Homo sapiens: one gene and its partners. The protein of the gene in region 1 interacts with the protein of each later gene in a pairwise test. Each region holds a gene or a part of one and is shown on either strand. Other genes may lie near its edges.

Region 1 (3,648 bases):
GGGACCAGGCACTTGGACTTGGAAGCATTTAGAACAGTGCCTGGTGTGCAGCAGGCATTCAATATTTGTTGACGGAATGAAAGGTACATTGTGTTCCTGAATCAAACGTAACACACATAAATAGAAGCTATCTACTCCTTGATTTACTATTTTTTCTGCTCACAACCACTCCCCACCCGACACGGCGACCAGCGGTCTCAAACATCAAAAGTTCTACTTTTTTAAAGACAGAGTACACGATTCTCCTTCGTGTCCATGGAGAAGAGCAGGGTACCACCCCAGTGGAAAATGAAGCCACCTACACTGAAGTCTCCACGTTTACCAGCTTTTGCTCTTTCCTACTTACAGCCCATCTGTTGCACAGCAGCCTGAGTGATCTAGAAAACATAAATTAGATCATGTCATCTCCTGCTTTAAGTGGGCTGGTGGTTTCCTTTGCAATTAGAATGGCTTCAAAGCTCTTACACGGCCGACCAGGCCCTATGTTATCCTGCTTACACCTCAGATCTCACTTCTGACCCCTCTCTCTCTTGGTTTACTCTTCTTTGACCCCATGGGTCTTTACAGGGGCCCTGTACTATGCTGAATACCTTCCCACTGCAGGCCCTTGGCATCTGCTGTTCCCTCTTCCTGGAAAGCTTTTCCCATCTCTTGGGTGTTCAGAGTGGCCTTTTCCATCCATCGCCTCCATCAGATCCCCCTGTTTTCTCCTCTTTCTGGCAGTTCTCACCACCTGAAACCATGGGTCTATTTACTCACTGTCATGCTCACTCCATTGGAATGTCAGCTCTGTCTTGATCACCCTGAACCCCCGGAGCCCAATAACTATGCATTGGGTGAATGGCTGAGGCATGGATGGTGAGCTGTGTTTTCGAGTTGGGTGTTGTGTCTGGGCTGTTTTGCCTCGTGGAATAGATGAAGGGAGGAAGTTGCTGGGAAATGCTGGAGGGAGGCTACAGGTCTTTGTGACCTTGATTTCAATAGCAACAGCTTGCATCTAAGGCAACATCTGACCATGGACAAGGAGGGGGACAATTGTCAAGAGAACAGGCTGAGTGGCAGCTTAGGCTGACGCCAGGTAGGGGTTAGAGAGCTGAGAGTCAGGAATGACCTCCGTTGCCAAACACCTGCTGACTAGAAAGTAGTGCTGTTCCTATCCTCACAGCGGGGCTGCAGCCAGGGCTCCACCTGCACTCCCTGTAAGCTCCCATTCGTTCACACACTACCACAAAGCATGTATTGAGCAACTACTTTGTGCAGGCACTGTTGTAGGCACCGGAGATGCAGCACTGAGTAAGAAAGCCCAGGTCTGTCCCTCATGGAGTTTCGTTCCCAGAGAGGAAGACAGAGGAACAAACAAAGTGAGATAATTTCAGATCTTAATAAGTGAAGGTAAGATAGATGAGAGTGTTGGCGGTGGGCCTGTGTAGGGGGGAAGTGATTTGCACAGCGTGGTCCAGAGAGGCCTCTGGGTGAGGCGATGCTTGCTAGAGAGAGAAGAATCCAAGGCGGGGAACAGCAGGGGAGAAGGGGAAGGAACTGAGGCAGGAGAGCTGCTCGGAGTGGGATCTAATGGGCCCTGAAGGGCCAGGTCAGCTTTCTGCACACAATCCCATTTGCCCTTCAACAAAGACTGAGTTTGAAATGTCTTGCTCACCACCTCAGAGCTGCTAAAGGTACAAAGAGAACCTAAAACTGCTCTCCACTCACAAACGAAGCCTCACCAGGCTTTCTTGCCCAGAAGCACTGAAGCAAGCCAAGTCCCAGCAAGTGGTACACACTTCCAAGCCAACACATTTTGTCGTGTTTAAACCAACCTTGAGATGTGGAAGATTTTTTAAAAAATTCTACATTTTTACCTTGATCCTTCTTGAGTGGGTCCAAAACCATGCCACTCAGAGTTGAGATGGGAGAGAGACAAAAAAGATTTGCTCTTTAATTGAGGCTGAATTTAAAATGTGAAAGATAATCACATTTAAATGTTCTTACAGTATAAATATTGGACCATCCACTCTTCAGTAACATAGTAAAGATGCTTGCTTGAAAAATGCCTTCAGAAAACTGAATGAGCACATAGCTGTCTTTATAAAAGAAAGTACAGATTGTAGAGAAAATACTGGGGAAAGTAGGTTTAAAATAGAATCAAATATCAGAAATTCTCAGAAAATGATGGAAAATAAGTGCCAAAGCTTATTTCATTCAGTAAAATCCTCTTTCAATTCCTGGACATTTACTCCAGTGAGAAAATCATGTTATTGGGGAAAAAAGGGCTGTGTATGAAGATGCTAATTTCAATATTACCTGTAATGGCATGTGTGCATACACACACACACACACACACACACACACACGGAAGTAAACAGAATTTATAGCAAACAGGACTGAATCACTAAAGTACATTGCAGACTCTATTTTCGTAACTAAGGCATCTTGAAACTACCAAAAATCCAAAATAAGAACTTACGTATAATAAGCCCACTTATCCTCCTTGTCTTTTAGACAATTTTAGTTCTTTTAGAACTAAATTTCTGGCTGGGCGCAGTGGCTCACGCCTGTAATCCCAGCACTTTGGGAGGCTGAGACAGGCAGATAACTTGAGGTCAGGAGTTCGAGACCAGCCTGGCCAATATGGTGAAAACCCGTCTCTACTAAAAATACAGAAATTAGCTGAGCATGGTGGCACATGCCTGTAATCCCAGCTACTTGGGAGGCTGAGGCAGGAGAATTGCTTTAACCTGGGAGGTGGAGGTTGCAGTGAGCCAAGATCATGCCACTGCACTCCAGCCTGGACGACAGAGTGAAACTCCACCTCAAAAAAACCCACGAAAACTAAATTTCTAGTATTTCTTGAATGGAGTTGACTAGTTGGCTAGAGTTCCACAAACCAATGAATGAGGTGTTAAATTTACCACCTTTGAGGCCAGTGTTTCCTATCACTAATATCACGTGTTTTAAAAAAATTTCGCCTTGTTCTATAAAACAATTTTTAAAAAATAGAATAAATCAGTCTGGATATTACACAAAATCTGCCATGCACAAAGGTGAAAGCAGCTCTACTGGCAACGGAGCTACTGGCCAGCAGGTAGAATTAGGAACAGCTTGCGAGAACAGTCCCTGTTTACCATACGATGTACAAAGGCGAACTTCAGGGTCTGAAAGGCTATCTGCGGTGGCCCTGAATGAAAGGCAGGGTTGTTTTAAAGGCGAATGCCCCAAAGCTAAGGACCACTGACATGACATGACCCCTTGAAGCATTGTGCTACCATTTATAAAGCAATTGAGCAACAATGTAGGCATTAAGATTAATGAGATGGATCAACTGCACTAATATGAACTGAACACCAGTACGTATTGGTAGTTGCTAAAGGCAAGAAGCTCAACAGATCTTTACTTACAGCTCCTATTTGTGTAAAACCTTAAAACATGTATCTTATAGATGCATTGATAGTTTCTGTAGGGACACCCAAGAAACAGTTAACTGAGGATGCCTCTGAACTAGGTGTCGACAACTTGGGTGTTTCCTGGTACTGCGTGGGTGGGTGGGGGTGGCCTACGTAAACTGAGATGACATAGGCTGCTACACAAGGGCCTGTGGACCAAATCTAGATGGATGACCCATAAGTGAAGAATGACTGTACATATCTTAAG
Region 2 (4,251 bases), on another chromosome or scaffold:
AAACTCACAATCCCATCATCTTTACCTGAGAATGCTAAAGAAAGCTACAATTTTTAAGGTGAAAACTTCTTTGGAAATCTTGATGAATAAATTTGTTTCCCCTAAAAATCTATATCAGTACGTAACTAAACATTTTATTGTGTTTAACACTAGTTTTGGCTGCAAATACTATTTTTAAAACTGCTTATGACTGTAAAGCAACTTTTCACAACAATTCAAAATAAATAGTGACTTTGATTTTATTTGCTTGTTTATTCTGAGAATCAATTACTAACCTTGGTGCCATTTTTCCAAAGTGATTGATGTAATCTAAAAATCTAAACTTGGCATTCTACACAAGGAACCTGCTCAGGAGCAATACACTTACTAATACTTGATACATACATAGCTGCTGCCTGATTGTATGTAATAGCCAACACCTAAAACTAATTTAAATCACTAAATTAAGTATGGTTTTCTCCAATTCCTTCTGGTGCATTTCAATAGACCTATTTTACCCAGAAAATTTGTCTAATCACTTTGAAAAAATATATGGAAAAACAACCAGTTTAATATATATAAATTTTAAAATAAGCATCTAATTCGTAGGATAAATTAACATTTCCAATCCTAAAGACTTGGATTTGGAAGGAAATCTGTCATCTAGTCCAGCCCCCTACCAAATAAAATAATCCCCACTTCACAATGTTCCTTGGAATCAAACTCATATCTGACTGAAAAGCTCTCACTACTAACCACTACTATATTAACATCTTCTAAAATTGGTTCTTGCCATTAATCAGAAGACTGATAAAGAATTACCTTGAAGTCCTTGAAAAGCAGTGTATATATTATTCTTATAAATCCTGAAAATACAGGTTTAGAAAAGAAGTGACATTTACTTATCACCAGGGATTTCAGTGGCCCAAACTGTCCATATGCTGGTATATTGAATACTGGAGTACTCTGCAAACTTTTGGAGTTTGCTTAAAGCACAAAAATCAACTAATCAAAGTAGTAATAAAATAACAGTTGTCAACTCAAGCTTAAGTTTTCTCTTCATTTTATCAAGTTCACATTCAAGTTTAAAAAGCTTATGAACTTCTTGAAAGTTGAAGTTAGATTGACTACCTAAAAACGAGCAAGTACAACTCTAAAATGATACCTGTATTGTGGCAACAGATACAAATACCATTCTTTACTTTCATTTTGAGATACACTAGAATCTCTCTTGAAGCTAGTGCTTCAGAAGCACTTTTGTAAAAACGCTTAACCTTCTCTTCCATATGCCTTTCTCTACCTCACCAGCTGGAATCTGTCACAAAAACAGATAATCACATATGATACAGAAATAGTTGATCCTACTGCAGAATTAGGTTAACACTTCTAAATTGAGGCATAGAAAAGAAGGGGGTGGGGGAACAAGCCCTACTTAAACAAATCATTTACCTCGGTCTGGCTTCATTTTCACATCCAATTTTCGCCCAGAGTGCTGTGAAATGCACCTGTGGGTTCTTTCAACAGGCTCGCCGCTGATTCTACGGCTTCTGCTTCGCTTTCAAAATGCTGAAAGAGACAAAAATAAAATTAATCTGGCCCTATTCTAATACCCGGACCTTGCAAGTAAACTACTGTTAAGTTAGGCCTCTTCCTGGCACCAACTGCGGTGACAGCACCCTCGGCTGGTCTGAAAAAAGCAAAACTCTCTGCACCGCCTCCCCCATCTCCTCCGGATCGAGCACCCCCTTCCCTGCCTCTGTGCTCTCCAGGCCAATGTGTCCTTCTGACACAGTCTCTGAACCAAAACAGGATCTATTTATAACCTGGAGGTACAGGCAAGAAGAAGAAAAAGATTTGAGCAACACAAACTAACCCCTTCGTACAAAAACGCCTCTGGAAACAGAGGCACCTCCGCAGGGCTGGTATGGAAATTCTTCCACCTGGTGCCTGGGCGCAGCCAACTCTTCCAGTCCCCTGCGCCTCCCGAGCCCTCCGCCCGCCCCGCCGGGCCTCACCTGTGTAATTACCCTCTGGCTAGCCTTCCTGCGGCAACCGCGGCCAAGTTTACACAGAAACCCGAGTCACCTCCTCCCGCCCAGCCCCCAGCCCCAAACGAACTCTTCCGGGCTGTCCCGGGGCGACCCTACCAACTCCCAACCAGTCCTCCGCGGCCGGCTCCGGGGGAGGTGTTTACAGCCTGTGCTCGCCCCCTGCTCTGCACAACCCCTTCCGTCCCGCCGCGGCCCCGGATTTCCTTCAGCCCCGCCGCACCGAGCGCCGCGTCTGCCCCTCTCCCCGCTGGAGAGTTGTTTTCATGGCGCTCTCGAGCTGGCCGGCTCCTCCGCTCCCTCGGCCGACCTCTGCTGACTAACTCGCTCTCCTCTCCCGTCCCAATCCCGCCTCCTCTTGGCACTTCTCTCCACCGCTCGCCCAGCAGCTCACATCACACTCCCACCTCAGACCCCAGGCTCCGAGAGGCGCAGGGCCAGCGGGAGCGGAGTATGGAGCGCAGCGGCCCCCGCGGCTGCCTCAGGTGACCGTGGGGACCCGAGACGACCAGCCCGAAGCGGCTCCCCGGCGCCCCTGTGGCCATCCACCCGCGCCTCAGCCACCGCCTCGCTCCGCTCCCTGCGCTCAGCCCCTCCGCCCTGCCTGACTGGCACCCGAGCCCCGCGACCCCCGGGCTTCCCCCGCCCGTAGCCCCGGCCGGCCCTCTTGCCCAGCGCCTCTGCCAGCTCCTTGCCCGCCCGCTGTCTCTAGCTCTGGCGCCCCGGCTCCCCGTCCCCCTCGCTCGGCCAGTTCTTTCTCTGCTGTTTGCCCTGTCAAAACACTGCCTAGGTCACGTGTCCCAACAACAGCCAACCCACCCCGGTCGTCACTTCCTCCCCGGCGGCCTCCGCGGCCCTGGCGCCCGGTTACTATGGCAATGCCGCCGCTCGCCCCGGGGCGCTAGTTTGGGGCCGGGTTTTCGGTGCAGGTGCCCGGCGGGTGCGAGGGCGCTGGAGATGGCGGCTGGGAGACACCAGCAGAGTCCCGGAAGCCCGAGACGTCCCAGGCACTTCGGTTGCGCTCCCAGCCGGCAGAGGCGCGCCTGGATTCTGAGACCAGGAATCGGAGCTGCGCTATTAGAGCGCAGGGTAACTGGGGAGATGTCATCCAAAGGCCTGCCCCAGACGTGGAGGATAATTATAGTCGTCGTCTCCTCCTCCTCCTCCTCCTCCTCCTCCTCCTCCTCCTCCCCCCTCCCCCTCCTTCCCCCCCTCCTCCTCCTCCTCCTCCTCCTCCCGGGATGCTGGCACAGAGTTGTGATCGAGCCCCAAGTGGATTGCAGCGCATAATGGAACCCGGGTTTAATGTGACCGGGACGGGGGGTGGGCAGCTATGCGGGTCAGGGAGTGGGAGAATTTAAGAACAGGAAGCCCACCCCCACCCTAGATTTTCCCAAATCACTAAGGATTTTAGTAGGATTCAGAACCCAAGCTTCCAAGACACTCGCTGTGCTAAAAATAATCTTCATAACTTCTAAAACACTGACTCATGGGCAGGAGGACACTTTGACAGCATGTTATTGTTGGGGAGCTGTAATTTTGTTGTTGTGCTATAGCAATGTGACATGATGGCATTTCATGTTGTGATGTTGTCGTCATTTAAACACAAACAGATGACAGGAATCTGCTGTACTTAAAAAAAAACCCAATCCTAACAAGCGCTGCAGCTATTAGCTACTCAGTCTATAGACAAAGTACATATGGGGCATGAGCCCAAATGGAGACAAGTAAAAATTTGCAAGGCTCTTTGGTTTCATTAGAAAAAGTTTTTTTTTTAGATATAATTTTGCATAAAAGGATCACAGGAAAGTATTAGGACAAGTCTAAGGGGATTTTTTTTATTTGTGCCCTTCTGTTTTAAAATTTTTTTTACAATGAGTCTATTATTTTCACATCAGAAGAGTTTTATAAACTGCAAGATTGGCAGTTCCATTTTTTTGGCCTCAGGTAAAGTTCTTATGAAAAAGGCATGAAATATTTAAAAAGTAACATTTTCTAGTGCTTAGATATGTACAGTAAAATAACATGTACAACTGAAATTGTTAACCTTAACTCCACGATTGTATCTAATCAGAGCGGAGAGAACATTCAGGAGGGTAACATTTCATTTTCTCTGAAATGTTCTGGCATCATGACGATGAAACTGACAAATGGAAACAGTTCTTTAATCTATAAAATGCTACAAATGTTAAATCCCAGTGGATTTGACTTTGATATTATTGAA
Region 3 (3,648 bases), on another chromosome or scaffold:
GCAAGAGGACCACACGCTCGGAAGAGACATCAGTTATGTGGCTGAGGTCAGGCCCGGGGAGGCTGGAGGGAGAGCGCATACTGGAGATAGCTTACTTACAATGAACCCAAGCTTCTTATAATCTCGCGTGTACATGGACTTGCGTTTCTCCATGCTGCCACTGCTGTTGTTAGGTTCAGACTCAGCATCAAAAGCAATTCTTCGAAGTTCAAATATGATGTCCCTCTGAGCCTGAAGGAATCAGGGAGTAAAAAGAAAAGGGAGGGGAAAAAGCTGCTTTCATTGTGTGACATTACATATACTCCCTCTTTCCCTGGGGTCTAAATGAATCACTGCATTCAGGCAAAAGAAAAACAGATAAAAGAGAACCAATGTTCTAAGTTAGGGCTTTGCAGACCACTCTTCCCCCGTCAGTCTCCCTGCTGGTCAGGCCTGGCTGTATTCCACAGTGGTCCTCTTAGCCAAGTAGTTATCTGGAGCACGAATATTGATAGTCCAGTGCAGTCTTAACTGAGAGGCCCAGATATGATGGAAGGGTCGTGATTGGAGAAAGCTAAGCTAGAGAAACTGGGGATACTGTACAGTTGGGAACAAAGTAAGAAGCACCCAAAGTGCCTCACCCCACTAAGTTACTTCATGGAAACCAACACAGGACAAAAAAGAAAGAAAGGGTCAAAGGTGCAAACAACCCAAGTGTCCATCCAAGGGTAAATGGATGAACAAAATGTGGTGTGGACATACAATGGGATACTATCCAGGCTTTGAAAGAGGGCAATCCCAGTAGATGCTACAATCTGGATGAGCTTTGAAGATATTATGCTGAGTGAAATAAACCAGACACAGAAATATGCATATTGTCCAATTTCAATTATATGAGGTCCCTGGAGTAGTCAAATTCATAGACAGAAACTAGAATGGTGGTTACCAGGGACTAAGAGGACAGGGGAATGGGGAGTTAGTGTTTAATGGGTACAGAGTTTCAGTTCTGCAAGATAAAAAGAGTTCTGGAGATAGATGGTGGTGACAGTTTCCTAACAATGTGAATGTACTTAATGCCACTAGACTGTACACTTAAGAATGGTTAAAATAGTAAACTTTCTGTTATACATATCCCACCACAATAAAATACATAAATAAATTTTTAAAAGGGTTTCCAAGCAAAGAGCGTCATGTCATTCAATATTAAGAGGCATTGCTCTCTGCCACTAGAAGTGGTAAGATGACAGTCTCCTCTCCCTGGGATGACCACACCTTGCCAAAAACGTGGGGCACATTCACCGCCTCTCAAAGCCTCTCCATCATTCTTAACCGTATGGCCTTGCTCCATGAATGAAGTGCCACGGCAGCTACACACTTCACATATGCAGTTCACATCTGCAACAGATCAGGCCCTCACGTGCCAATAATGAGTGTTTTCCTTTCCAAAGCTGCAGCGCTGTTTAAGTTGAAAATGTGCTACGGCAGGGCTCCCAGCTGTTTCCTCTCACTCTACCCTCACACAGCAAAGGTCCCCAAAGCCTTCTGAATGGAGCTATAACCTTTCATGCACAACAAGAGACCCAGCAGAGAGTTACAGCCAACAGCCAACCGACAGAAATGCTGGCCCAGAAATCAGGTTTAATCTGGGACCCTGCTCTTGGCACTGATCCCTGGAGAACGAAAATTGCTAACTCAACCCCACAGAATCAATGCCACATAGAGTCACCAAGAGGCCCTAGTTGTCTGGGAACTTGACTCCAAAGCTACTACTATTAAATGTTACTTGGGGCCAGGAGCTAAAGTCTGTGGTCATGTGACATCAAACTTTCTTATTCAATAAATGCAGAAAGAACATGCATGTTTGGAGCCTAATGGAAGAATGCATTTGGTATATTTTCTGATCCTAGATTCACCTAATTTTGAAGCCATGCCCCTAAGTTCTGAGATGATAATAAAATGACATCATATCAAACTCTGAAACTCCCTAGTTTCAGGGTACCTCAAGAAAAGACTTTTAATGACACTTTCTGTCCTTCCTGTGCTTTGACTGCTGTCCAATGAGCACTCACCTGGTCCTGGGGGTCCATTTTGGTCATCATCCTGTCTTCCAGGAGGTTAAAGGTGAGCACTTGTAGAACATACAGCTGGTGCGCCATCTCATTGTTGATGGCCCGCTGGGCTCGGATGACATGCTAGGGAGATGGTTCACAAATGAAATTTTTTAAAAAAGAAAGAAAAGGAAACAACTAGAATTAACACTCAAGAAGGCTCTCACAGTCTTCACTGGGAGGTATAAGGAATGGAGAAGGAAGGTGAGGGCACAGGGAATTTCAGAGCTTTCCTTTGAATTTCAGAGCCCAGTAAGGTTCCTGATCTTCAGGTCACAGGCCATGAAAAAACCTACTGTGGGCAGGAGGGAGTGGAAGGGGAAAAGCGCTGGAAAGGGACTGATGATGGCAGCCATATAAGTCAAGAGAAGATGTGCTTGAAATGGGGGTGTCTCCAAGACAACTGTGGATTTCTACAATGGAAGCATCTGTCACACGCAGCAGAAAAACCAATGATGCATACCCATAGGAAGCAATTTTGCCATTATCTTACCCTGGGACTGTCTCTGACAGGTGAGCCCACTTCAAAATGGGGAAAAGTTTTAGAAGGAACACACAAAAGCAAAATACCCATCAAATCTTAATCCACTGTGGGAGCTACACAAGGATGTCTACCATCAAAAGCAGAGAGCAAATGCTCGTGAATTACTTTACTCACTGTTAACAATTAAATGAAAGATAAAATGACTTTTCCCCATAGAAACAGAACTGAAAAGAGAACATACAAGGAGTGGCAGGACAGGAAGACTGGATAGGTCCACCCCCAATCCCCTCACCCCTGCCCAGAAATGGGACAGCTGCCACCAACTCAACATTCAGCATTTGGGACTAACATACAGCCTTTTCAACAGAGATTCTGACTGTACATTAAAAATGCCAAACAATGGATCAATGTGGTGGAACAACCCATCAAATCAGTTATTTCAACTGTGCTAGCCCCACTCATGCCATGTTATCTGAAAGACCAATTCTCTTGGCAATCTGTAGTTGCTCCTGGGTAGACAGACTGCTGCAAACCAACTTCTAAGTGGCCGTTCAGTAAATGACAAAGCTCCCCATTGTAGAGAAAAATGATCTTCCTCCAGGATTGGAGGAAGTCTAGGTCCTTAGAGTGCTGCCTGGGTGACTCTCAACCTGACATCCACCTGCAATCCACACCATAGCTGTCAGTGCCATGCTGAAATAGCTAATTCAAGGAGGAGGGGTGGGAGAAGATTGAGGAATAGAAGAAAGAGGACAGGGAGGAATGAGAGAATACAGTCACCAAACCAAAATTATGGGAAGCAGGGAAGCTAGATAACGGATGGTTAGGAGCAAATCAAACCCCTTATCCTCCAATCCTCAGAAAAGCATGTTAACTCATGGCACACACTTAGTATCCAAAGCGTATGGGAATCTCTTTTCTTAGCAACTCGAAAGTACTGCACTCCAAGTTCTTGCAGGAGAGTACCAACCTCGAACTTCAGCCATCAACAACATCTCATACAAGAAGTCCCACTGAAGCAAACTGATTTTTGAGACAGGGTGAACACAGTCATTAATGCCACTCATATCTCAGGGC

The links.
Region 2: the proteins of CASS4 (region 1) and ATOSA interact in a two-hybrid assay, tested with the Homo sapiens proteins (one large-scale study listed by IntAct).
Region 3: the proteins of CASS4 (region 1) and ELMO1 interact in a two-hybrid assay, tested with the Homo sapiens proteins (one large-scale study listed by IntAct).

What each region holds. Positions count from the first base shown.
Region 1 is NC_000020.11:56,415,232-56,418,879, reverse strand, and holds part of CASS4 (cas scaffolding protein family member 4), read right to left. Parts: intron 1-3,648. UniProt on the Homo sapiens protein: Docking protein that plays a role in tyrosine kinase-based signaling related to cell adhesion and cell spreading. Regulates PTK2/FAK1 activity, focal adhesion integrity, and cell spreading.
Region 2 is NC_000015.10:52,676,578-52,680,828, forward strand, and holds the start of ATOSA (atos homolog protein A), read right to left. Parts: upstream 2,812-4,251; 5' UTR 2,251-2,811; intron 2,181-2,250; exon of another isoform or gene 1,734-2,180; intron 1,546-1,733; 5' UTR 1,445-1,545; coding exon 1,429-1,444; intron 1-1,428. UniProt on the Homo sapiens protein: Transcription regulator that syncronizes transcriptional and translational programs to promote macrophage invasion of tissues.
Region 3 is NC_000007.14:37,211,287-37,214,934, forward strand, and holds part of ELMO1 (engulfment and cell motility protein 1), read right to left. Parts: intron 2,172-3,648; coding exon 2,049-2,171; intron 232-2,048; coding exon 100-231; intron 1-99. UniProt on the Homo sapiens protein: Involved in cytoskeletal rearrangements required for phagocytosis of apoptotic cells and cell motility. Acts in association with DOCK1 and CRK. Was initially proposed to be required in complex with DOCK1 to activate Rac Rho small GTPases.